Regions from separate parts of the Homo sapiens genome. Here all the other regions are linked to region 1. The links come from fine-mapping of genetic effects on gene expression. A gene starts in region 1. Each other region holds a variant in brackets. All regions are shown on one strand. Distances are from middle to middle. Region 1 holds the start of MYCL (MYCL proto-oncogene, bHLH transcription factor). Region 2 overlaps LINC02811 (long intergenic non-protein coding RNA 2811). Region 3 overlaps TRIT1 (tRNA isopentenyltransferase 1).

The links. PIP is the estimated chance that this variant, and not a neighbour inherited with it, causes the effect. A credible set is the group of variants that fine-mapping cannot tell apart.
Region 2: its variant is the best candidate, but not a certain one, in a credible set for the expression of MYCL in whole blood (TOPMed, PIP 0.77).
Region 3: its variant is the best candidate, but not a certain one, in a credible set for the expression of MYCL in whole blood (TOPMed, PIP 0.71).

What each region holds. Positions count from the first base shown.
Region 1 is chr1:39,898,793-39,906,971 of GRCh38, forward strand. It overlaps MYCL (MYCL proto-oncogene, bHLH transcription factor), which reads right to left and starts at 3,125. Exons shown (of 2, transcript NM_001033081.3): 1 at 2,147-3,125. The coding sequence starts at 2,642. MYCL-AS1 (MYCL antisense RNA 1) reads left to right here. Exons shown (of 3, transcript NR_183425.1): 3 at 1-306. RefSeq lists an enhancer at 225-519 and silencers at 2,379-2,498, 2,909-3,228, 3,489-3,698.
Region 2 is chr1:39,804,743-39,812,921 of GRCh38, forward strand. LINC02811 (long intergenic non-protein coding RNA 2811) reads right to left here. Exons shown (of 4, transcript NR_186710.1): 3 at 4,312-4,629. It overlaps LOC130932201 (a long non-coding RNA gene), which reads left to right. Exons shown (of 4, transcript NR_186719.1): 2 at 136-290; 3 at 3,260-3,456; 4 at 4,320-4,693. Among named protein-coding and RNA genes, the nearest start is that of LINC02811, 8.6 kb to the right of the region's middle. The variant T/C (reference allele first, on the strand shown) is at 4,080.
Region 3 is chr1:39,866,308-39,874,486 of GRCh38, forward strand. All of the region lies in intron 1 of TRIT1 (tRNA isopentenyltransferase 1), which reads right to left. Among named protein-coding and RNA genes, the nearest start is that of MYCL-AS1, 13 kb to the right of the region's middle. The variant T/C (reference allele first, on the strand shown) is at 3,646.

The sequences.
Region 1 (8,179 bases):
ATAACACCAGAGACCTGGAGACACCTGGACACGCCCTTCTCATTCACTGGCTTGAAGGTCTCTTAGGTTAACCTAACCAGGAGAGGGGCAATTGGGAGAAAAGTCTCCTCCTGCTCCACACATTTTGCAGCCTCCACACAGAAGTCCACCTTAATGGATCTCGGCCTCGCAAAGGAAGAGCTCCGTTCTCAGCTTCTTTGCATATCAGGAAGCTTGAGCCCCTTTGTCAGGAAGGCTTCCATTGTGTGGACAATCGCATTATTTCTCCATTAATAAACCTGACCATTCAGCCCTCCTGGCCCCAAAGCCCATGATTGGCTGATTACGCTGTGTTTGGACTTCTGTCTTACCCAGCCCCTAGCCCCTATTGGGTGAGCTCTGCTGCCAATCACTTTCCCCACCCCCCGCCTCATTGTTTGCAATCTGTTGCATTTTGTTCCAGGCCATGTGGCCTGTGAGTGAACTAGAAGCTCACAAACAGGTTCAGGTTAAAGGGTAGGTTAGAAAATGATTCAGCAGGCTTCCCTACATCCCAAACCTTTAATTTTCAGTGTTAAGCCTCGTGGCTCAGGAAGATTCTATCTAAGAAAGAAATAATTTAAGACACCATTCTCCCTTTCAGAGAGTAGTGTCTTACTCTATCCAGACAAGGAAATGTCATCAGCAGGACAATCAAGTCCAACCCCATCGTGTGCAAATGGGGAAACTGAGGCCCAGATCAGCGAAGTCCACATATCACCTTTGTAACGTTCTGGATCTCAAACTAAAATGTCCAACTTCCAAAGCAATGCTCTTTCCACTCTACCACTCCACCAGCCGTTGTAGAGATACATCTTTATTGGTTTTTTGATCTCAAGATTCTCTTTCCAGCCATTAAACAAACATAAACTCTTGGTGTAGAAAGCAAGCTGGTTAAAAATGACCTTAACACAGTGGACCAGGAAAAAAAAGACTTTTAATTTTTGTTATCCTATTTTTTCTCTCAAGTGTAGGAAAACTTCCATACCCCATTCCCCAGTTCCCTATCAAATGGTCGTGTAAAAGTTATTCCTAAAAGCTACAGTGAGCTTTCTTGGTCCTAATTTATTTGTCACTAGCCACAGTCTACACTCTACAAAAATACCCTCTCCAGGATTTCTCACGGGTGTGGAGGTCTAAGATGCCAGAATAAGAACAATGTAGTTTAGTGGCACAGGATGCCCCAGTCTGCCCTCAGCGAGGTTGCACTTGCATCAAGGATGGGAGAGGAGGGCCTGGAGTTCTACTGCCTTGACCCCAGCATGTAGCCCACAGATTGCCACAAAGTAGGGGCCAGTGAATATTTGTTGAATGCCAGGGAGCAGCTGACGCTGGAGATCTATTGAGGGGGAGCAAGAAGGACACTTTTCCATCTCAGGACAAACAGCAAGGCAAGGTGTAGTGCTTCTAAGATAAGCTACCACAAAGACCCCAAACATCAAGGAAGAGGTGCCTGGTTGGGATGGAGCATTGGGGAAGAGGGGCTGGCTAGATGGCAGAAAGCTGGAGCTGACTTGTAGTGATTGTCTATCTCTAAGCCTCAGTTTTTCCATCTGTTAATGGGGAGTGTTCATTCTTCCCTCCCTGTCTCAGGGATGCACGAGTGGTAAGTGGTGGTGGGGAGGCACGAGAAGAGGGCATTTATTATTGGCATTTTAAAGTAAAGCCAACTGGAGACCTAGGTTTTTAAAAGGACGAAGGTTTTGGCTTTGCACAAAAGGCTCTCGGCTTCTTCTCCCCCTAGGGGAGTGTGAGTTTCCTAGGGAAAGAGGCAGCAGCAAAAAAACTTCAGGTTTGGAGTGTCTCTTAAGGTACCCCCTTCAATCCCTTACAGTCCAACCCCAGTATTGTCCTCTCTAAGCGCCAACCCTCACCTCAAATCCCTTGTCCCCTGGGGCTCCAATAATCATCAAAGGGAGGCTGGCTCCCACGCCACTTTTCCAAACTGTTTACCAACACACCCACGTGCCAGACAGACACGGTTGGGGACTACACGGGCAGCTTCAGCCAAAGAGAGGCGGAGATGGCCCAAGAGCTTGAGAAGAGCCAATGCCTGACCTCAGGCAGGGGCAGAGCTTTGGCCACCCATGGGGTGGCCCCCTCTTGGATGGCTCGGGGAGGTCCTTACCCGAGTCGCTTGGGCTCTCGGACCCGGAGCAGGCCTGGGTCTTGGGTTCGCCCAGCGGACAGGGGGCGGCGGGCGCCGGGTTGCCGGCTTCGAGGCTGGGAGTGCAGTCCGGGGCGGCGGACGCCTTGGGCGGGTTCCCCCGGGGCGCGCCAGGAGCGAGCCGGTCGCTCACAGCTCTCTCCAGCCGTTCCCGGGCCGAGAAGCCGCTCCACATGCAGTCACGGCGTATGATGGAGGCGTAGTTCCTGCCCCAGCCTTTCGAGTGGCCCCGGGATTCCGCTTCGTCTCCGGTGCACCCTCCGGGCCACGGCTCCGGGGGACCAATCCCGGGGGCCGGGTCCCCTGCGCCGGGACCCAAGCCCCAGGGCGGCGACGTGGGGGGCGATGGCACCAGCTCGAATTTCTTCCAGATGTCCTCGCTGGGCGCCGTGGAGCGGTAGAAATCCTCCCCGCAGTCATAGTCGTAGAAATAGTGCTGGTACGAGTCGTAGTCCATGTCCGCTCCCTGCGGGAGGGAAGGGGGGACGTGCTGACCGGGTGCCGGCCGGGCGAAGGAGGTGTCCCCGGGTCCCTCGGCACAGTCGGCTGCCGGGCTCTCGTTCCTCCCCAACCCCACCAGCTTGCAGCCTGCGCCCAGTCCTCGCGTCCCGGGAAGCCGGGCCCCGGGTCAGAGTGGTAGGGGAAGCCAATCGCAGCGCGCGGACCCGACTGTGGGCAGCGAGTTCAAAGCAAACTTTGCCAGCGCCGCCCGGAGCGCAGCTCCCAGGGCCCGGCGGGGCCGGGCGGGGGCGCGCCGTGCCCAGAAGGCAGCCTGCAGCCAGCCCGCACCGCGGGACCCGCGCCCGTGCCCTGGCCACCCGCAGCCTCACCTCGCTCCAGCCGCCCGCCACCTGGAGCGGACCGGCTCCCCGCCGGCTCGGGGCAGCCCGGCAGCCAGCACACACGCACATGCGCGCCGCCGAGAGCGCGGCCCGCACTCACAAGCGCGCCCCCCCCGCGCGCGCGCCCTCCCTCGCTCGCGCACGGCGGCCCGGACGCTCTCGGGATCGGCGCGGGAGCGCGAGCTGCAGGCGCATTGTTTCCTGACTGCCTTATATCTCGTCGCGCGCCCGGGACCCAGGGACTGGGGGGCGGGCCCTATGGGACAAACCCCGCCCTCTCCCTGCCTACTACGGGCAGTCGACAGGTGGGGCCGGCCCCACCTCCTGGCAGCGCTCGCCCGCTCCGTTCAATCCCCGGTAGCCCCCCAAATAAATTGCACGCTGGGGAGCGCAAACAGGAGGAGGGCTGATGCGGCCCGGCGGCCGCTTGGCGGTGCCAGCCGGCTGAGCTAAACCGTGCTCCTTGCCCACTCCGAGCTGGGGAATTAGGGCTACTCCCCGCCCCACCCTGCGCGCCTACTTTCCCCGGCGCACCCCGCTGGGTTCAGGTGCGCCCGAGCCGCCGCGAGGGGTAGGGGGAGGGAAACGCGCCACCTGGCGGCCCTCAGCCCTGAACTTGGGCTGGTCCCGGCGTCCGTCTGGTCACCCGTCGGCCCGTTTCTTGAGCTCAGTGGCCCAAGCCTGGATGGCATCGAAGCGAAGATTCCGGGATTTAGAGCCCGAAACGTAACCTTCCTGAGCTTCAGTTTCATCTGTAAAATGAAGGGATGGTAATGCTTACCTCACAGGGTTGTTGTGAGGCTTCAGGGAAATAAGAGCATCTAGGGAAGGGGTCTGGTCTAGGTGGAGAGGCAGACGGCGCTGGCTTAGCCCCCGCTTTGGGGAGGCGGTGCAGAAATGAGGAATTTTTCCCAGGGCAAAGCCAGCTGAGACCCGCCATGCTCCCTCTCATCTCACACAAAACACTGTAGGAGCTGTACAGTAGAGAATGAGGATTTGGCATCTGGAAAATACTGCAGGACCAAGTTGTTTCAAGTTTTGCCCTGCATTGCTGGCCAAGATGATAGATAACCCCTTTGTATAATCTTCTTTTTAAATTTTAAATATATTTTGTTAAGAGACAGGGTCTCACTCAGCGTCAAGGCTGGAGTGCAGTGGCTCGATCATGACTCGCTGCAGCCTCGAACTCCTGGGCTCAAATGATCCTCCCTCCTTAGCCTCCGAAAGTGCAGGGATTACAGGCACGGGTCACCGTGCTGGGTCCCCCTTTGTGTCATCTTCTACACAGATGACCTTTGGTGGAAGAGAAAAAATTAAACTATACGGCCAGTCTGAGATTTAGGCCAGAGGAGAGTAACTTGGGACAGCAGCCAATACATCTAGATTCCTCCACCTGGCATCAAGGTCTGGTGTCTGTCTACCCCAGCCTGATTGTCTGCTGTCTCTCTCTTTCCCTCCCACCCCTGTGGTCTAAGAACACCAAACTACTCACTGTTGGCAGACGGAAGTGAGAAGGGCAAGCAATTCAGTGTGGTTGGAGCATGGGACACGGATGTGTGTTGTTATATGGGTTGGGAAGGCAGGGAAAATGACAGCCTTCCGTTTTAGATACGTTGGGTCTGTGCTGCATGTGGGACATCTTGAAGGCAGAAACCTGCTCCTACTTGCTTTGTGATTTCTGCACCTAGAACAGCTTCTGGCAGACATTTGTGAACTAACTGACTTACTGAGGGACTCAGCTAACCAGATTTCACTGAGACAGCTTGTGTGCCCTGCTTTGTGCTAAACGGAAGACACAAATCAGAAGGGTTCCAGGTTTGGTTGCAGCCCCAAGGCACAGGCATTGGATTGTCCTTTAGTGACTTTTCTCTGGTCCACAGATGTCTGAGATGGTTGCTGTACTAGTCTGGGTTATTGGTTACAAATAACAAAAACCAACCTTAGGCAGGGCACAGTGGCTCACGCCTGTAATCCCAGCACTTTGGGAGGCTGAGGCGGGCAGATCACAAGGTCAGGAGATCGAGACCATCCTGGCTAACACGGTGAAACCCCATCTCTACTAAAAATACAAGAAAATTAGCCGGGTGTCGTGGTGGGCACCTGTAGTCCCAGCTACTCAGGAGGCTGAGGCAGGAGAATGGCGTGAACCCGGGAGGCGGAGCTCACAGTGAGCCGAGATTGCGCCATTGCACTCCAGCCTGGGCGACAGAGCGAGACTCTGTCTCAAAACAAAAAAACAAAACAAAACAAACAAACAAAAAACCAACCTTAGACAAATGTAAGCAGAAAATGACTTTATTGGAATAATTGGTGGTATAGACCTCAAGGGAGGCTGGAAATTTATGTTTGGAGAATGGGCCTTCTTTACCTAGACTACAGCCCCCACCCTGCAGCTCTTCCCATGGTTTCATTGTAGATGATATATGGGGGCAACCAGGAGGTGCTGCCCCTCCTCAAGAAGTAGGAAAAAGGAAATTAAGTTGTCTTCTGAGAGTTAACACTGCTTCTTCACTTTGCATACTTTTGTTTGTTTAATGTCTTCCTCGTCAGACTGTAAACTGAATGAGGGCAGACAAATGTCAGCCTTATTCATGGCTGTACCCCAGGGCTTTAGAACAAAGCCTGGCACATCATGGGTGCTGAGTATATGACTGAACACAAAACTCTAATGTTTTAGTTTTTGCGTTTTTTTTTTTTTTCCTTTAAGACAAGTCTCACTCTGTTGCCCAGGCTAGAGTGCAGTGGCGCAATCTCGGCTCACTGTAACCTCCGCCTCCCCGGTTCAAGTGATTCTCCTGCCTCAGCCTCCCGAGTAGCTGGGATTACAGGCACCTGTCACCACGCCTAGCTAATTTTTTTTTTTTAAAGATCATACTGCTTCTGTCCCTTTTTTTTTATTATTATTATACTTTAAGTTCTAGGGTACATGTGCACAATGTGCAGGTTTGTTACATATGTATACATGTGCCATGTTGGTGTACCCATTAACTCGTCATTTACTTTAGGTATTTCTCATAATGCTATCCCTCCCCCCTCCCCCTAATTTTTTGTATTTTTACTAGAGATGGGGTTTCACCATGTTGGCCAGGCTGGTCTTGAACTCCTGACCTCAAGTGATCCACCTGTCTTGGCCTCCGAATTTTTTTGTTGTGTTTTTTTGAGACAGGGTCTCATTCTGTTGCCCAGACTGGAGTGCGGTGGTGCAATCATGGCTCACTGCAGCCTTGACTTCCTGGGCTCCAGGGATCCTGCTACGTCAGCCTCCTGAGTAGCTGGGACCATAGGAGGCATGCACCACCACACTTGGCTAATTTTTTGTAGAGATGGGGTCTCCCTATGCTGCCCAGGCTGGTCTCAAACTCCTGGGCCCAAGTGATCCTCTCACCTTGGCCTCTCAAAGTGCGGGGATTACATATGTGAGCCACCACATCTCACCTCTAATGCTTTAAAGTAGAGATATGCCAATTGTATTAGTTTGTTTTGACACTGCTGTAAAGAAACACCTGAGATTGAGTAATTTATAAACAAAAGAGGTTTAATTGACTCATAGTTCCGCATGGCTTGGGAGGCCTCAGGAAACTTACAATTATGGCAGAAGGGGAAGGAGAAGCAAGCATCTTCTTCACAAAGCAGCAGGAAAGGGTGTGAGTGCAGGAAAAACTGCCATTTATAAAACCATCGAGTCTCGTGAGAATTCACTCACTATCACAAGAACAGTATGGGGGAAACTGCCCCCATGATCCATCACCTCCTACCAGGTTTCTCTCTGGACACATGGGGATTACAATTCGAGATGAGATTTGGTTGCAGACGCAGAGCCAAACTATACCTTATAGAGACAGAAGAACTCTCAGGCCCAGTCTAGACTACAACCTGGTTAAAAGTATTAATGCAGCTAAAGAAAGAGGGTGCCAGTTAGGAGGGTCTGGGCAGCCAAGGAAGCCAGAGATCAGGGAGAGTTGCCAAGACAATCACCAGCAGTGTCCCTTCTCTGGGGACAAAGATGCTGGTCCAGGAAAAAGGGAGATGGAAGTACCATTCTTTGGAGCCACTCAATTCACCCCCTACCTCACTCATGCTCTGGATCACCAAGCAACCCTCTAAAAACCATTCTGTTTCCTATGTAGATCAGTCCACAGGGAGAGAATGCACTCATCATTGAACAGGAAGATCCAGTCTGCTTCAAAGCCCTGCTTCCTCTTATAAATTAATGAATTGGCATCTGATTTGCAATATCAGTCTCATGAACCTGGTTAATGTGTGTCTGTTCTGTAGAGATGCTGCTGCTTTTAGGGCTAACAACTCTGGTTTCTAAGCTGGACCCAGGATGCTGATGAATTTACCAAGGTAACAAATGCTACCCCAGGGACCTTCCATTTTTCTGCAATATTTTATTTCCTTTATTTTTTCTAAAATATGTTTTTAATCAAAATACATGTAATAATTTTTTAAAAAATCAATTAGGCATATGGCAAAGTTAAAAAAAAAAGGCCATCTTCTGTCTTGCCATCAACTGATTCCCACTCCCCAAAGGCAGCTATTGTTTTAGCTTTTTGTTTTTTGTTTTTGTTTTTGTTTTTTGAAACAAAGTCTCACTCTGTCGCCCCGGATGGAATGCAGTGATGTGATCTCAGCTCACATCACTGAGTGTGTGTGTGTGGTGTGTGCCACCATGCCCGGCTAATTTTTATATTTTTAGTAGAGACAGGGTTTCACCATGTTGGTCAGGCAGGTCTCAAACTCCTGACCTTGCGATCTGGCTGCCTCAGCCACCATGCCAGGACTGTCCCTCATATTTCTTTCCATATTTTGACCAATACAGAGATCTACTTTTTCCTGATTTTTAAATTTCTTTCTTTTTCTTTATTTTTTTGAGATGGAGTCTTGCTCTGTTGCCCAGGCTAGAGTGCAATGGCATGATCTCTGCTTACTGCAACCTCTACCTCCTGAGTTCAAGCAATTCTTCTGCCTCAGCCTCCTGAGTAGCTGAGACTACAGGTGTGCGCCACCATGCCTGGCTAATTTTTGTATTTTTAGTAGAGATGGGGTTTCACTATGTTGGCCAGGCTGGTCTCAAACTCCTGACTTCAGGTGATCCACCCACCTCAGCCTCCCAAAGTTCTGGGATTACAGGCGTGAGCCACCATGCCCG
Region 2 (8,179 bases), 94 kb before region 1:
GAAAAATTTAAAAGTTCATTATATGGTTTACTTTTGTTATCAAATAACTACATTTTTTGTAAAATTTATTAGACAATCCAATAATTTTTCTTCCAGATTTAATACTACTCTAGTGTTCTCTGTTTTCTCCTCCAGATCCATTATTTATTCTTCTCCATCTTGTTCTGTGTTCCTGGAAGCCAACCTTTATAAGCTGCAGGAAATGGATTTCCTACTCTCCACCTTCTGATTGGGCTTGACCAACGGGGAGCACTGGCAGAAGACAAGCATGGGAGGAAAAAGAGATCAGGGTATTCATTTCCCCAGATCCCTCCCTGTCCTCTACTTAAAGGTCATAAGTCCATCCAGGTGTCATCTCTTATGTAGGATTCTAGCGACATCTTCTCCCCTTGTTCCTTTAGGCTTAGGAGTAATAACACTTTTCTGTTCTTGCTAGTCCTGAGGATAAGTGTTTTGTCACCTCTTGTTGATTTCCCTGACTTCAAATACCAAACACTATTTTTTTGCTATTTTTGAACTTTATGTAAGTAGAATCATACAGTATATATTTTGGGGGGTAAGGTTTTTTTTGTTTTGTTTTACTCAATAATAGGTTTGTGAGCATCATCCATGCTATTGCATAAAACAGTAGTTTGTTTTCATTGCTGCATAGTATTTTTCACTTATACATTGTACTATTAATAAATATTTGAGGGTTTTTTTTCCCAAAAGTGCATATGTGTCTCTTGGCTGTACACCTAAGAATAAAACTTTGGGTGACAGGATATGTATACCTTCAACTTTAGTAAACAATACCAAACTGATTTCTAAATGCTAGTACGCATTTACAATTCTACCTGAAATGTATGAGTTACCATCATCTGTAGGATCTATAGTGATTTCTCCCTTTTCATTTCTGACATTTCTTTTTTTGTGTCCCTTTTTCCCTCTTTCCTTTCCTTTTCTTTCTTTCCTTCCTTCCTTTCTTCTTTCTTTTTTATTGAGAGTCTTGCTCTGTCACCCAAGCTAGAGCGCAGTGGTGTGGTCATGACTCACCACAGCCTCGACTTCCCAAGCTTAAGCAATCCTCCCACCTCAGCCTCCTGGGCAGCTGGGACTACAGGCATGTGCCACCACACCTGGCTAATTTTTTGACCCATTATTGAGAAGTATGTTAAAATTCCCATTGTGGTTTTGAATTTGTCTATTTCTTTTTTGAGTTCTGTCAGTTTTTGCTTTAAGTATTTTGAGGCTATGTTGTTGGAGAATCTAAGTTTAGAGTTATTTTATCTTTTTTTAATTTTACTTTTTTTAGAGATGATGTCTCCCTGCCTAGGCTGATTTGGTCTTATTTCTGAGCTCAAGGGATCGTCCCACCTCAGCCTCTGGAGTAGCTGGAACTACAGCACGTGCTACCATGCTTGGCTTAGAATTAGTTCATCTTTTGATGGGTTGAACTTTTTTTAATGAAGTGTTTCTATTTATTTATTTATTTATTTATTTATTTATTTATTTATTTATTTTTGAGAGGGAGTCTAGCTCTGTCGCCCAGGCTGGAGTGCAGTGGCATGATCTCAGCTCACTGCAACCTCCACCTCCCAGGTTCAAGCGATTCTTCTGCCTCAGCCTCCTGAGTAGCTGGGATTACAGGTGCCCACCACCACACCCAGCTAATTTTTGTATTTTTAGCAGAGACAGGGTTTCACTGTGTTGGCTGGGCTGACCTCGTGATCCACCCGCCTCGGCCTCCCAAAGTGCTGGGATTACAACCGTGAGCCACCTCGCCCGGCAGTCTCTCTTTATTTCTTTTTTTTTTTTTTGAGGGGGACGGAGTCTTGCTCTGTCGCCCAGGCTGGAGTGCAGTGGCGCAATCTCGGCTCACTGCAGGCTCCGCCTTCCGGGTTCATGCCATTCTCCTGCCTCAGCCTCCGGAGTAGCTGGGACTACAGGCACCCGCCACCTCGCCTGGCTAACTTTTTTGTATTTTTAGTAGAGACAGGGGTTTCACTGTGTTAGCCAGGATGGTCTCAATCTCCTGACCTCATGATCCGCTGGCCTCGGCCTCCCAAAGTGCTGGGATTACAGGTGTGAGCCACTGCGCCCAGCTCTCTTTATTTCTAATAATTATTTTTGCCTTAAAGTCTACTTTTTCTGATATTAATATAGTTATAACAGCATTGTTTGGTTGGTATTTGCATAATATATCTTTTTTATTGATTCACTTTCTTATAAACTTTTTAGTTTGAAATAATTTCAAACTTGCAGAAGTTTTGAAATAGTTCTAAGACCATCCATACACTCTTCCCTTAGATTACTCATTTGCCTTATTCTCTCTATCTATCCCTTATATATAATATATATTATATTAGTATATGTAATTTTTCCAACCCATTTGAAAGTAAATTGTATATATTATGCCCCATTACTCTTAATACTTCAGTATGTATTTCAAAAAAAATTATACTCTCCTACATTACCCTTACAAAATCAGAACCAGAAAATTAATACTGATAAAATACTACTATTTAACCATATAAACTAATGCATTAACTCCATTCAAATTACACCAATTGGCTGGGCGTGGTGACTTATGCTTGTAAGCCCAGCACTTTGGGAGGCCAAGGCAGGCAGATCACTTGAGCCTAGGAGTTCAAGACCAACCTGGGAGACATGGTAAAACCTTGTCTCTACAAAGAATACAGAAAAATTAGCTGGACGTGGTGGTGCACACCTGTAGTCCCAGCTACTTGGGAGGCTGAGATGGGAGGATCGCTTGAGCCCAGGAAGCAGAGGTTGCAGTAAGCCGAGATCACGCCACTGCACTCAAGCCTGGGTGACAGAGTGAGTTCCTGTCTCAAAAAAACCTAAAAAGCCTCTCCCTCTCCCCTCTCCCCTCTGCCCTCTCCCCTCTCCCTCGTCCCTCGTCTCCCTCGTCTCCCTCATCTCCCTCGTCTCCCTCTCCCTCTCCCTCTCCCTCTCCCCGGTCTCCCTCTGATGCCACCAAAGTTGTGAAAGCCGAGGCTGGACTGTACTGCCGCCATCTCGGCTCACTGCAACCTCCCTGCCTGATTCTCCTGCCTCAGCCTGCAGAGTGCCTGGGATTGCAGGCGCGCGCCGCCACACCTGACTGGTTCTTGCATTTTTTGGTGGAGACGGGGTTTCACCGTGTTGGCCGGGCTGGTCTCCAGCTCCTGACCGCGAGTGATCTGCCTGCCTCGGCCTCCCGAGGGGCCGGGATTGCAGACGGAGTCTCGCTCACTCAGTGCTCCATGTTGCCCAGGCTGGAGTGCAGTGGCGTGATCTCGGCTAGCTACAACCTCCACCTCCCAGCCGCCTGCCTTGGCCTCCCAAAGTGCCGAGATTGCAGCCTCTGCCTGGCCGCCACCCCGTCTGGGAAGTGAGGAGCGCCTCTGCCCGGCCGTGACCCCGTCTGGGAACTGAGGAGTGTCTCTGCCCGACCGCCACCCCATCTGGGAGGTGAGGAGCGTCTCTGCCCGGCCGCCCCGTCTGAGAAGTGAGGAGCCCCTCCACCCGGCAGCCGCCCTGTCTGGGAAGTGAGGAGCCCCTCCGCCCGGCAGCCACCCCGTCTGCCAAGTGAGGAGCCCCTCCGCCCGGCAGCTGCCCCGTCCAGGAGGTGGGGGGCACCTACGCCCGGCCACTGCCCCGTCTGGGAGGTGGGGGGCGCCTCTGCCCGGCCGCCACCCCGTCTGGGAGGTGTACCCAACAGCTCATTGAGAACGGGCCATGATGATGATGACGGTTTTGTCGAATAGAAAAGGGGGAAATGTGGGGAAAAGAAAGAGAGATCAGATTGTTACTGTGTCTGTGTAGAAAGAAGTAGATATTGGAGACTCCATTTTGTTCTGTACTAAGAAAAATTCTTCTGCCTTGGGATGCTGTTAATCTATAACCTTACCCCCAACCCCGTGCTCTCTGAAACATGTGCTGTGTCCACTCAGGGTTAAATGGATTAAGGGCGGTGCAAGATGTGCTTTGTTAAACAGATGCTTGAAGGCAGCATGCTCCTTAAGAGTCATCACCACTCCCTAATCTCAAGTACCCAGGGACACAAACACTGCGGAAGGCCGCAGGGTCCTCTG[T/C]CTAGGAAAACCAGAGACCCTTGTTCACATGTTTATCTGCTGACCTTCCCTCCACTATTGTCCTATGACCCTGCCAAATCCCCCTCTGCGAGTAACACCCAAGAATGATCAATAAATACCAAAAAAATAAAAATAAAAATAAAAAATAAAATAAATAAATAAATAAAAATTTAAAAAAACTAAAAAGCAAGCAACAACAACAACAAATTACACTAATTGTCCCCCAAATTACCTTTACAGGCCCAGCATCCAATTCAGTCGCCTTCAAGGAGTCTCTTCAGTCTAATTTATTCTAGAACAATTCTTCAGGCTTCCCTTCTCTGGCCAAGATTTTTGAAAAATACAGGTCAATGACTTTGTAGGTTGTCTTCAGTTTGGATTTGTCTGCTGTGTCCTCATGATTTATGCATCTCTGGCAGGAATACCACAGAAACGATGCGACATTCTTCTCAGTGTACCATATTAGGAGTCACACAATGTCAACTTGTCCCATTACTGCTGATGTTAATGTTTACCACTTGGCTAAGATGATGTCTGCCAGGTTTCTCCACTGGAAAGTTAACAGTATTTAGTACGTGTTAAGTGATGAGTAATGAATAAATATTTCATAGGGAGATGTTCTGAGAGTATAAAAATATCCTGTTCCATATCAAAGTTGCTTCACCCAGTTTCAACCCAAATCAATTACTACTACGATGGTTGCCAAGTGAAGATTTTCCCTTTTTTTATTTTTATTTTTATTTTTTTAAGACAGAGTCTCACTCTGTTGCCCAGGCTGGAGTGCAGTAGCACAATCTCGGCTCACTGCAACCTCTGCCTCCTGGGTTCAAGCAATCTTCCTGCCTCAGCCTCCGCAGTAGCTGGGATTACATACACCCACCACCACAGCCAGCTAATTTTTGTATTTTTACTAGAGATGGGGTTTCACCATATTGGTCAGGCTGGTCTCGAACTCCTGACCTCAGGTGACCCACCCACCTCGGCCTCCAAAAGTGCTGGGATTACAGGTGTGAACCACTGCTCTAGGCCAAGGTTTTTCTAATTTCAACATTTTTTTACATTTATTAGTTAATATTCTTATTCTATGACGAAACAGAGCTTTCCATTCTCCCCAATGTATTTATTCATTTATCTATTTATATCATATAAACACGTGGATTCCTATTTTTCTCAATGAACTACAATCCATTACTTGATACCTATTTTGAAAGTCATACTATCTTAGATTTGGCCAGTGGAAGATGCTTCAAGTTGGCAGCTGCGCCCTTTAGTGTGTCTTCATAATTCTTTGAGCATTTATTTATTTCCTGGCACAGCAAGGTATTCTAGGTTCATCTTGTACATTTCTTGCTCCAGCCCACAAGGAGCCCTAGTCCAGCACTGAGAATGCCATCTATAATGGGCGCCAAAGATGTTCAGTGCTGCCAGAGTGCCACTGATTTCAGGCAGTCTCAGCAGACAGAACAAGGAACTACGTCAATGTGTGTGTTCAGACACATACACATCTAGATCTATTTTTTGTTGTTGTTGAGATGGAGTCTTGCTGTGTTGCCCAGGCTGGAGTGCAGTGGCGTGATCTTGGCTCACTGCAGCCTCTGCCTCCTGGGTTCCAGTGATTCTCCTGCCTCAGCCTCCTGGGTAACTGGGATTACAGGCATCCACCACCATGCCCGGCTAATTTTTGTATTTTTAGTAGAGACGGGGTTTCACCATGTTGGCCAGGCTGGTCTCAAAATCCTGGCCTCAGGTGATCCACCCGCCTCGGCCTCCCAAAGTGCTGGGGTTACAGGTGTGAGCCACTGCAGCCAGCCATTTTCATTGTTTTTTAGTCGTTCTTACATTTTTGAGCTTCCATCTGGGGTTATTTTCTTTCCGACAGAAAAGCACCCTATGTTATTTCCTTCAATATGGGGCTGCTGGAAAGAACTATCTTTTTAATTTTTTGTCTGAAAAAGCCTTATGTTACCTTAATTTTTAAAGGATGTTTTTGCTGAGTATAGAGTTCTAGACAGGCAGCGATTTTCTTTAAGCCCTTTGAGTACAGTTGGCCTTCTCTATTGGGATTCTGCATCTACGGATTCAACCAACTATGGATCAAAAATATTTGGGGAGGCCAGGCACAGTGGTTCACACCTGTAATGCCAACACTTTGGTAGGCCAAGGTGGGCAGATCCCCTGAGGTCAGGAGTTCGAGACCAGCCTGGCCAACATGGTGAAACCTTGTCACTACTAAAACTACAAAAATTAGCTGTGGGTGGTGGCGGGCGCCTGTAATCCCAGCTACTCGGGAGACAGAGGCAGGAGAATTGCTTGAACCAGGGAGGTGGAGGTTGCAGTGAACCAAGATCGCACCGCTGCACTCCAGCCTGGGCGACAGAGCAAGATTCCACCTCAAAATAAATAAATAAATAAAAAAGTCGGGGAAAAATAATTTTTAAAAATAACAATACAACAATAAAAAATAACATAAATAAAAAACAGAATACAATCTGGGTGTAGTGGTTCATGCCTATAATCCCAGCACTCTGGGAGGCTGAGGTAGAGGATGATTTGAGCCCAGGAGTTTGAGACCAGCCTGGGCAACATATCAAGATTTTGGTATCCATGGATGATCAAGTCCCTTATATAAAATTTGTTCTGAAACAAATCCCCCACACATACTGAGGGACAACTGCATATTATTCAGTGTCTCCTGGCTTGCATTATTTTTGTTGAAAAGTCAACTGTTAGTCTAGTCTTCCTTTGAAGGTAAAACTGCCCTTTTCTCTGACTGCTTTTAAGATTTCATCCAGCCAGGCGTGGTGGCTCATGCCTGTAATCTCAGCACTTTGGGAGGCTGAGGCAGGTGGATGGCTGTGCCCAGGAGTTCAAGATCAGCCTGGGCAACATGTTGAAAACCTGTCTGTACAAAACATACACAAAAATTAGCCGGGTGTGGAACACAAAAAAAATTAGCCAGGCGTGGCAGCATGTGCCTGTAGTCCCAGCTACTCAGGAGGTTGAGGTGGGAGGATCACATGAGTCTGGGAGGTGGAGGCTGCAGTGAGCCACGGCTGTACCACTGCACTCCAGCCTGGGCAACAGAGTGAGACCCTGTATCAAAAAAGAAAAAATTGTCTTTGGTTTTTGGCCATTTTACTCTGATGTGCATAGGTATACTTTTCTTTTAATCCTGTTATAATTCATAAGGCTTCTTTCCTTCCTTCCTTCCTTCCTTCCTTCTTTCTTTCCTTTCTTCTTTCTTTTTCTTTTTGATAGAGTTTCGCTCTGTTGCCCAGGCTGGAGTGCAGTGGAGAGACCTTGGTTCACTGCAGCCTCCACCTCCCGGGTTCAAACGATTCTCGTGCCTCAGCCTCCTGAGTAGCTGGGACCATAGGCACGTGCCACCACGCCTGGCTAATTTTTATATTTTTAGTAGAGACAGGGTTTCACCATATTGCCCAGGGCGGTCTCAAACTCCTGGACTCAAGTGATCCGACTGGCTCGGCCTCCCAAAGTGCTAGGATTACAGGCATGAGCCACCATGCCCAGCAATTTTTGTTGTTGTTGTTGTTGTTTTTTTTTTTTTGAGATAGGGTCTCACTCCATTGACCAGGATGGAGTGCAGTGGCTCAAACACCGGCTCACTGCAGCATCTCCCTCCTGGGCTCAAGTGATCTTCTTGCCTCAGCCTCTGAAGTAACTGGAACCACATGCATGTCCACCACGGGTGGCTAACTTATTTATATTTATTTATTTATTTTTTTATTTTTTGAGATGGAGTCTCACTCTGTTGCCCAGGCTCGAGTGCAGTGGCGCGATTTCGGCTCACTGCAAGCTCTGCCTCCCATTCTTCCCGTCATTGGTTCTCCCATTCTTCTCCCATTGGTTCACACCATTCTTCTGCCTCAGCCTCCCGAGTAGCTGGGACTACAGGCGCCCGCCACCAAGCCCGGCTAATTTTTTTGTATTTTTAGTAGAGACGGGGTTTCACCATGTTAGCCGGTATGGTCTCGATCTCCTGACCTCGTGTTCCGCCCTCCTCAGCCTCCCAAAGTGCTGGGATTACAGGTGTGAGCCACTGCACCAGCCTCCAAAAGTCTTCTTGTTTAACTGTGGTT
Region 3 (8,179 bases), 32 kb before region 1:
GATTATAGGCACCTGTCACCACGCCCAGCTAATTTCTTCTAGTTTTAATAGTCCAAGCTTCGGGAGAAAAGATAGTTTTAGCATAGGTAGATGAAAGGAAAAATTATTTTCTTAAAGATGTTGACACTCACTGGGAAGTTGATTTTCCTTTAGACAAATTCAACTGAAGAGATGTTGAAGAGTACGGGAAAGGCTGATTTCTTGACTCACTTTACTTTTTTAATTAAAAGAAAACTTTTTTTAAACATAACTTCAGTAGGTTAGGACTAATAAGTTTGCTGCAGGAACATCAAGGCAATTACTCTTTTCAACTCTGGCAGAAATTCAACTGTAGATATGCTGAATAAACTGGACACATTAAGATGCTCAGAAAGCAGGAGAAGGCCAGGCACAGTGGCTCACACCTGTAATCCCAACACCTTGGGAGGCCAAGATAGGAGGATCGCTTGAGCTCAGGAGTTTGAAACCAGCCTAGGCAACACAAAGACCCCATGTCTACAAAAAAAACAAAACAAAAACAAAAAAACAGTTTTAATCAGCCAGGCATGGTGGCACGTGCCTATAGTTCTAGCTGCTCAGGAGACTGAGGTGGGAGGACTGCTTGAGCCAGGAGGTCAGGGCTGCTGTGAGCCATGATTGCACCACTGCACTCCAGCCTGAAGTGAGACACTGTCTCAAAAAATAAAATAAAAAAGCAGGAGAATCTGTGCCTGATCTGTTGAGTCAGTGTGATGAGACTCATGGTTTGGAATTTATAGTGCAGATTATGGCTTTTATTCTTTCCTACGGCTCTTCTCTTTAAGGGAAAAGGGACCAGAATCATATAAGGCCATAGTTTTCTTCTTTTGTTTTTTTGAGATGGAGTTTCGCTCTTGTTGCCCTTGCTGAAGTGCAGTGGCACAATCTCGGCTCACCGCAACCTCCACCTCCTGGGTTCAAGTGATTCTCCTGCCTCAGCCTCCCGAGTGGCTGGGATTATAGGCATCCACCACCATGCCTGGCTAATTTTGTATTTTTAGTAGAGACGGGGTTTCTCCATGTTGGTCAGGCTAGTCTCGAACTCCCAACCTCAGGTGATCCGCCCGCCTTGGCTTCCCAAAGTGCTGGGATTACAGGGGTGAGCCACTGCGCCTGGCCAAGGCCATAGTTTTCAAACTGAGATGTGTATAACATACATGTGATACATTCTTCTGAAGTATCAATCTTACTAGGTAGCAGAAAAAAAAAATTGAAACATTTTTACATCTAAACAAACATTAGGGCAGAGAATGCAAAATTGGCACATATTTTTAAGTTAAAACATGAGAAACTGCGACACAGAGCTTCTGCAGTGGCTGCTTGGAGTCCACCTGCAAACAAACACTGGAGAAGCTCTGCATCCAGTCCAAACACCCAACATTTTATATTCGAGAATACTCAGGCTCCCCTGGCCATATAACTGGCTGGAAGCAGAGACAGGACTAATGCCAGGCTGCTCTGCCTATAACCCAAGCTATTTCTGCTGCCACTCACTAGAATTTTTATCCCCATTTGACTCTGGTATATTTGTTTGCTTCAAGTAATGAATTCCTACTGAGGTGAAATTAAATTCCAGAAACTGAGGAAAAGACAGCTACCACACACTGAACCCCTTCAAGATTCTTTTTTTTTTTTTCGAGATGGAGTCTCGCTCTGTCGCCCAGGCTGGAGTGCAGTGACTCCATCTCGGCTCACTGCAAGCTCCGCCTCCCGGGTTCATGCCATTCTCCTGCCTCAGCCTCCCAAGTAGCTGGGACTACAGAAGCCCGCCACCATGCCTGGCTATTTTTTTTTGTATTTTTAGTAGAGACGGGGTTTCACCGTGTTAGCCAGGATGGTCTCGATCTCCTGACCTCGTGATCCATAAAAGAAAAAAAAAGATAAATTAAATTAGGCATTATAAAAATGTAGAACTTTTGCTCTGTGAAAGATACTGTGAAGAGAATGAAAAAATAAGCCACAGATTGGGAGAAAATATTTGCGAATAACATATCTGATAAAGGATTTATACCCAGGATATATATAAAGAACTCTTGGCCAGGCACAGTGGCTCACGCCTGTAATCCCTGTACTTTGGGAGGCTGAGGCAGGTGAATCATCTGAGGGCAGGACTTCGAGACCAGCCTGCCTAACATGGTGAAACCTCATCTCTACTAAAAATACAAAAAATTAGCCAGGCGTGCTGGCAAGCACCTATAATCCCAGCTACTCAGGAGGCTGAGGCAGGAGAATCACTTGAACCCGGGAGGTGGAGGTTGCAGTGAGCCAAGATCGCGCCATTGCACTCCAGCCTGGGCGACAAAAGCAAAACTTCCTCTCAAAAAAAAAAAAAAAAAACTCTTAAAATTCATCAATAAGAAAACAACCCCACTCCCGTGGGCAAAAGATCTGAGAGACACTTCACCAAGGATATACAGATGGCAAATAAGGATATGAAAAGAAGCTCAACACTGGCTGGGCGTGGTGGCTCACGCCTGTAATCCCAGCACTTTGGGAGGCCGAGGCGGGTGGATCACCTGAGGTCAGGAGTTCTAGACCATCCTGGCCAACGTGGTGAAACCCCGTCTCCACTAAAAATATAAAAATTAGCTGGGCGTGGTGGCAGGCATGTGTAATCCCAGCTAGTCGGGAGGCTGAGGCAGGAGAATCGCTTGAACCGATGAGGCAGAGGTTGCAGTGAGCCGAGATCGTGCCACTGCACTTCAGCCTGGGCAACAAGAGCAAAACTCTGTCTGAAAAAAAGCTCTCCCTCTCCCTCTCCCCCTCCCCCTCCCTCTCCCCATGGTCTCCCTCTCCCTCTCTCTCCAGGGTCTCCCTCTGATGCAGACTGGAGGCTGGACTGTAGTGCCGCCATCTCGGCTCACTGCAACCTCCCTGCCTGATTCTCCTGCTTCAGCCTGCCGAGTGCCTGGGATTGCAGGCGCACGCCGCCACGCCTGACTGGTTTTCATATTTTTTTGGTGGAGACAGGGTTTCGCCGTGTTGGCCGGGCTGGTCTCCAGCTCCTAACCGCGAGTGATCTGCTAGCCTCGGCCTCCCGAGGTGCCGGGATTGCAGACGGAGTCTTGCTCACTCAGTGCTCAATGTTGCACAGGCTGGAGTGCAGTGTTGTGATCTTGGCTCGCTACAACCTCCACCTCCCAGCCGCCTGCCTTGGCCTCCCAAAGTGCCGAGATTGCAGCCTCTGCCCGGCCGCCACCCCGTCTGGGAAGCGAGGAGTGTCTCTGCCTGGCCACCCATCGTCTGGGATGTGAGGAGCCCCTCTGCCCGGCCGCCCAGTCTGGGAAGTGAGGAGCGCCTCTTCCCGGCCGCCATCCCATCTAGGAAGTGAGGAGCGTCTCTGCCCCGCCGCCCACCGTCTGAGATGTGAGGAGCGCCTCTGCCCAGCCACGACCCCATCTGGGAACTGAGGAGTGTCTCTGCCCGACCGCCACCCCATCTGGGAGGTGAGGAGCGTCTCTGCCCGGCCGCCCCGTCTGAGAAGTGAGGAGCCCCTCCGCCCGGCAGCCGCCCCGTCTGGGAAGTGAGGAGCGTCTCTGCCAGGCAGCTGCCCCCTCCAGGAGGTGGGGGACAGCCTCTGCCCGGCCAGCCGCCCCGTCCGGGAGGCGGGGGGCGCCTCTGCCTGGC[T/C]GCCCCGTCTGGGAGGTGGGGGGCCCCTCTCTCCGGCCGCCACCCCGTCTGGGAGGTGTACCCAGCAGCTCATTGAGAACGGGCCATGATGACGATGGCGGTTTTGTCAAGTGGAAGGGGGGAAAGTGTGGGGAAAGGAAAGAGAAATCAGATTGTTGCTGTGTCTGTGTAGAAAGAAGTAGACATGGGAGACTCCATTTTGTTCTGTACTAAGAAAAATTCTTCTGCCTTGGGATGCTGTTAATCTATGGCCTTACCCCCAACCCCGTGCTCTCTGAAACATGTGCTGTGTCCACTCAGGGTTAAATGGATTAAGGGCGGTGCAAGATGTGCTTTGTTAAACAGATGCTTGAAGGCAGCATGCTCGTAAAGAGTCATCACCACTCCCTAATCTCAAGTACCCAGGGACACAAACACTGCGGAAGGCCGCAGGGTCCTCTGCCTAGGAAAACCAGAGACCCTTGTTCACATGTTTATCTGCTGACCTTCCCTCCACTATTGTCCTATGACCCTGCCAAATCCCCCTCTGCGAGCAACACCCAAGAATGATCAATAAATACTAAAAAAAAAAAAAAAAAAAAAAGAAGCTCAACATCATTGGTCTTTAGGGAAATGTAAATTAACGACAATGAGATACCAGTACATAGAACTGCGGAAATTAAAAGAAAAAAAAAAAAGCCTGACAATACCAAATGCTGGAAATAATATAGAGATACAGAAGAACACGAATTCTCATTCACTACTGGGAGAAATACAAAATGGTACAGTCATTTTAGAAAACAGTTTGGTAGTCTCCTGTAAAGTTAAACCATAAAGTTACCAAACAGCCTAGCAATCCCACTCTTAGGTATTTACTCAAATGAAATTTCACACTAAAACCTGTACATGAATGTTTACAATAGCTTTCTTTATAATCACCAAAAACCAGAAACCCAGATGTCCTTTAATAGGTGAATAGACACCAGGCGCGGTAGCTCACGCCTGTAATCCCAGCACTTTAGGAGGCTGAGGAGGGCGGATCACCTGAGATCAGGAGTTCAAGACCAGCCTGACCAATATGGAGAAACTATGTCTCTACTAAAAATACAAAATTAGCTGGGCGTGGTCGCACATGCCTGTAATCTCAGCTATTCGGGAGGCTGAGGCAGGAGAATCATTTGAACCCGGGAGGCGGAGGTTGCAGTAAGCCAAGATTGCACCACTGCACCCCAGCCTGGGCAACAAGGGAGAAACTCCGTCTCATAAAAAAAAAAGGTGACTAGACAAACTATGGTACATCCAAACAGTGGAATACTACTCAGCAATAAAGAGCATTGGACGCATGCAACAACATGGAAGAATTTTAAACGTATTTTGCTGGCCAGGTGCAGTGGCTCACGCCTATAATCGGAGCCTGAGGCAGGTGGATTGCTTGAGCTCAGGAGTTCCAGACCAGCCTGGGCAACGTGGTGAAACCGTCTCTACAAAAAATACAAAAATGAGCCAGGTGTGGTGGCACAGGCCTATAGTCCCAGCTACTTGGGGTGCTGAGGTAGGAGGATTGCTTGAGCCCAGGAAGTTGAGGCTGCAGTGAGCCGAGATGGCGCCACTGCACCCCACCCTGGGCAACAGAATGAGACCCTGTCTCCAATCAATCAATCAATCTACCTTTTAAAAAAATGTATTTTGCTAAGTGAAAAAAGCCAAACCTCAAAGGCTACATATTGTATGATTACATTTTAAGACATTCTGGAAAAGGCAAAACAATAGGGATGGAAAACAGGTAAGTTGTTGCCAGAGATTGAAGGAGATAGAGGGGTTGACTACAAAGGGGCCACTATAAGGGATTTTTTAGGGTGATAGAACTGTTCAGTATGGTACTGTGGGGTATATATCTGACTCTATGCATCTGTCAAAACCCATAGAACTAAACATCATAAAGAGTACACTTTACTATATGTATGCAAAAAATTTTTAAAAATGTTTTTTTGGGACAGAGTCTTGCTTTGTTGTCCAGGCTAGAGTGCAGTGGCACCATCATGACTCACTGCAGCCTTGACCTCCCTGGCTCAAGCCATCCTCCTGCTTGAGCCAGGAGAAATTGGGACTACAGGTATGTGCTACCAGGCCTGACTAATTTTTTTTTTTTTTTTTTTTTTTGTAGAGATGGGCTCTCACTATGTTACCCAAGCTGATCTCAAACTTCTAGGCTCAAGCAATCTTCCCTCCTTGGCATCCCAAAGTGCTTGGATTAGAGGTGTGAACCACTGCAGCTGGCCACTGTATGCAAATTTTTTAAAATAACCAGAATATCTGGGAACCCAGGATAGACTACAGACTGTAACAAATGAAATCTAACTGCATTACAAACGTCTGATATAACCTCAGAGAGGAAAACAAAAGGAGCTGATCTAAGTAACTTCATAAAACAATGTTACTACTCGATACTGTAAGGATAAAAACAAACAAACAAACTGTAGGCAAACATTGTACTCTAGTTGGTAAATCTGTTTCTCACAGGAGTAATCACTGAAACTACAGGTTACACAAATAAGTAAATATACTATAGGGAATGAGAGCTAAATTTCTTACTCTGAGAAAGAAGTCACAAATAAGCAAGGGGGGAAGACTAGAATGAATCTTGTGGTGCTGGATTAGTCAGAGATACCAGTATAAACCCATGCTTATTTTAATATACATACAGATAGAGAAATAAATATAAATGTGTGTATATATAGATTAATATACATACATACATTTCCTAGCTCTTTCCACTGAAAGGGACTAGAAGCATCTTGTAATACCAGACAGGAAGTACTAAACACACACACACACACACACACACACACAGAGAGAGAGAGAAAGAGAGAGAAAGGAAGGAAGGGAGGGAGGGAGGGAGGGAAGAAGGGAAGAAGTGAGGGAGGGGAAGGAAAAGGAAGGAAAAGGAAGAAAGGAAGAAAACAAAAAGAAAGAAAGAAAAGAAAGACTCTGATGAATGCTAAAATCAGAGGGTGAAACTTTAAGGAGAAATAGGACATCTGCATAGCCTGAGGGTATCTCCCCTAAAATATTTATTAATTACTGTGGTGCTTTTAACATATGTCCGCAAATTATTTGATAAGCTTTCATCCTGGAAATGAAGCTTAATTCTCCTTCTATTCAGTGTGGGCCAGACTTGGCAAATGATTTCCAACAAATAAGACTAGGTACTGTCATTTTATGGAAATGGAAAAGAAAAATAACACAAAAAGAGAAAAATCGTGACTTTTTCAGTGGAGAAACGTGTATACAATCTCAACCAAATGATCAAAGTTACCATCACCAGTAATAAGCCATGCTAATACTATGTTGATATCATACTTTGATATGATCCAATGAGAAGGGTACTTCACTTCTGTGGTATACTTTCCCAAAATCCATAATGCCAAGTCTAATCATGAGAAACCAAAACCCAAATGGAGAGACATCTACAAAAGAGCTGACCAGTACCCTTCAAAAGTATCAAGGTCGTAAAAGACAAGGAAAGACTGAAAACTGTCAAAGATTGGAGGACACTAAAGATACATGATGACTAACTGCAGTATAGTATCCTAAATTGAATCCTGAAATGGAAAAGGGACATAAGTGAAAAAACTGGTGAAATCCAAGACTATAATTTAGTTAATAGTATTGTACCTATATCAATTTCTTAGTTTTAATAAATGTACCATGATGATGTAAGATATTAATATTAGGACAAGGTAGATGAAGGGTATACAGGAACTCTTGGTACTATCTTTGAAACTCTTGTGTAAATCTACAACTATTTCGGGCCAGGCACAGTGTCTCACACCTGTAATCCCAGCACTTTGGGAGGCAGAGACGGATGGATCACCTGAGGTCGGGAGTTCGAGACCAGCCTGACCCACATGGAGAAACCCCATCTCTACTAAAAATACAAAATTAGCTGGTTATGGTGGCGTATGCCTGTAGTCCCAGGAGGCTGGGGCAGGAGAATTGCTTGAACCCGGGGGATGGAGGCTGCAGTGAGCCGAGATCACACCATTGCACTCCAGCCTGGGCAACAAGAGCGAAACTCTGTCTCAAAAAAATAAAAATAAAAATAAAAATCTACAACTATTTCAAAATCAAAATTAAACCTGTAATCTCAGCTACTTGGAAGGTGAAGTGGGACGACTGCTTGAGCCCAGGAGTTTGAAACCAGCCTGGGTAACACAGTAAGACCGTGTCTCAATCAATCAATCAATAAAAAATTATAAAAACAATAATATAGGACAGTTTCTTAACTTTAGTACAATTAATATTTGGGGCCAAATAATTCTGTTATGGGAAGTTGTCCTGTGCCTACTAGAATGTTAGCAATGTCTCTGGCCTCTACCCATTAGATGCCAGGAACCCACCTCCCCAGTTATTAGAACCAAAAATGTCTCCAGGGATTGCCAAACGTCCCCTAGGAGGCCAAATCACCCCAAGTTGAGACTACTGATATAGCTATATACATTAACATATAAAGATATCCATAACATAGTGTTAAAAGAAAATAGAATAGTATCTA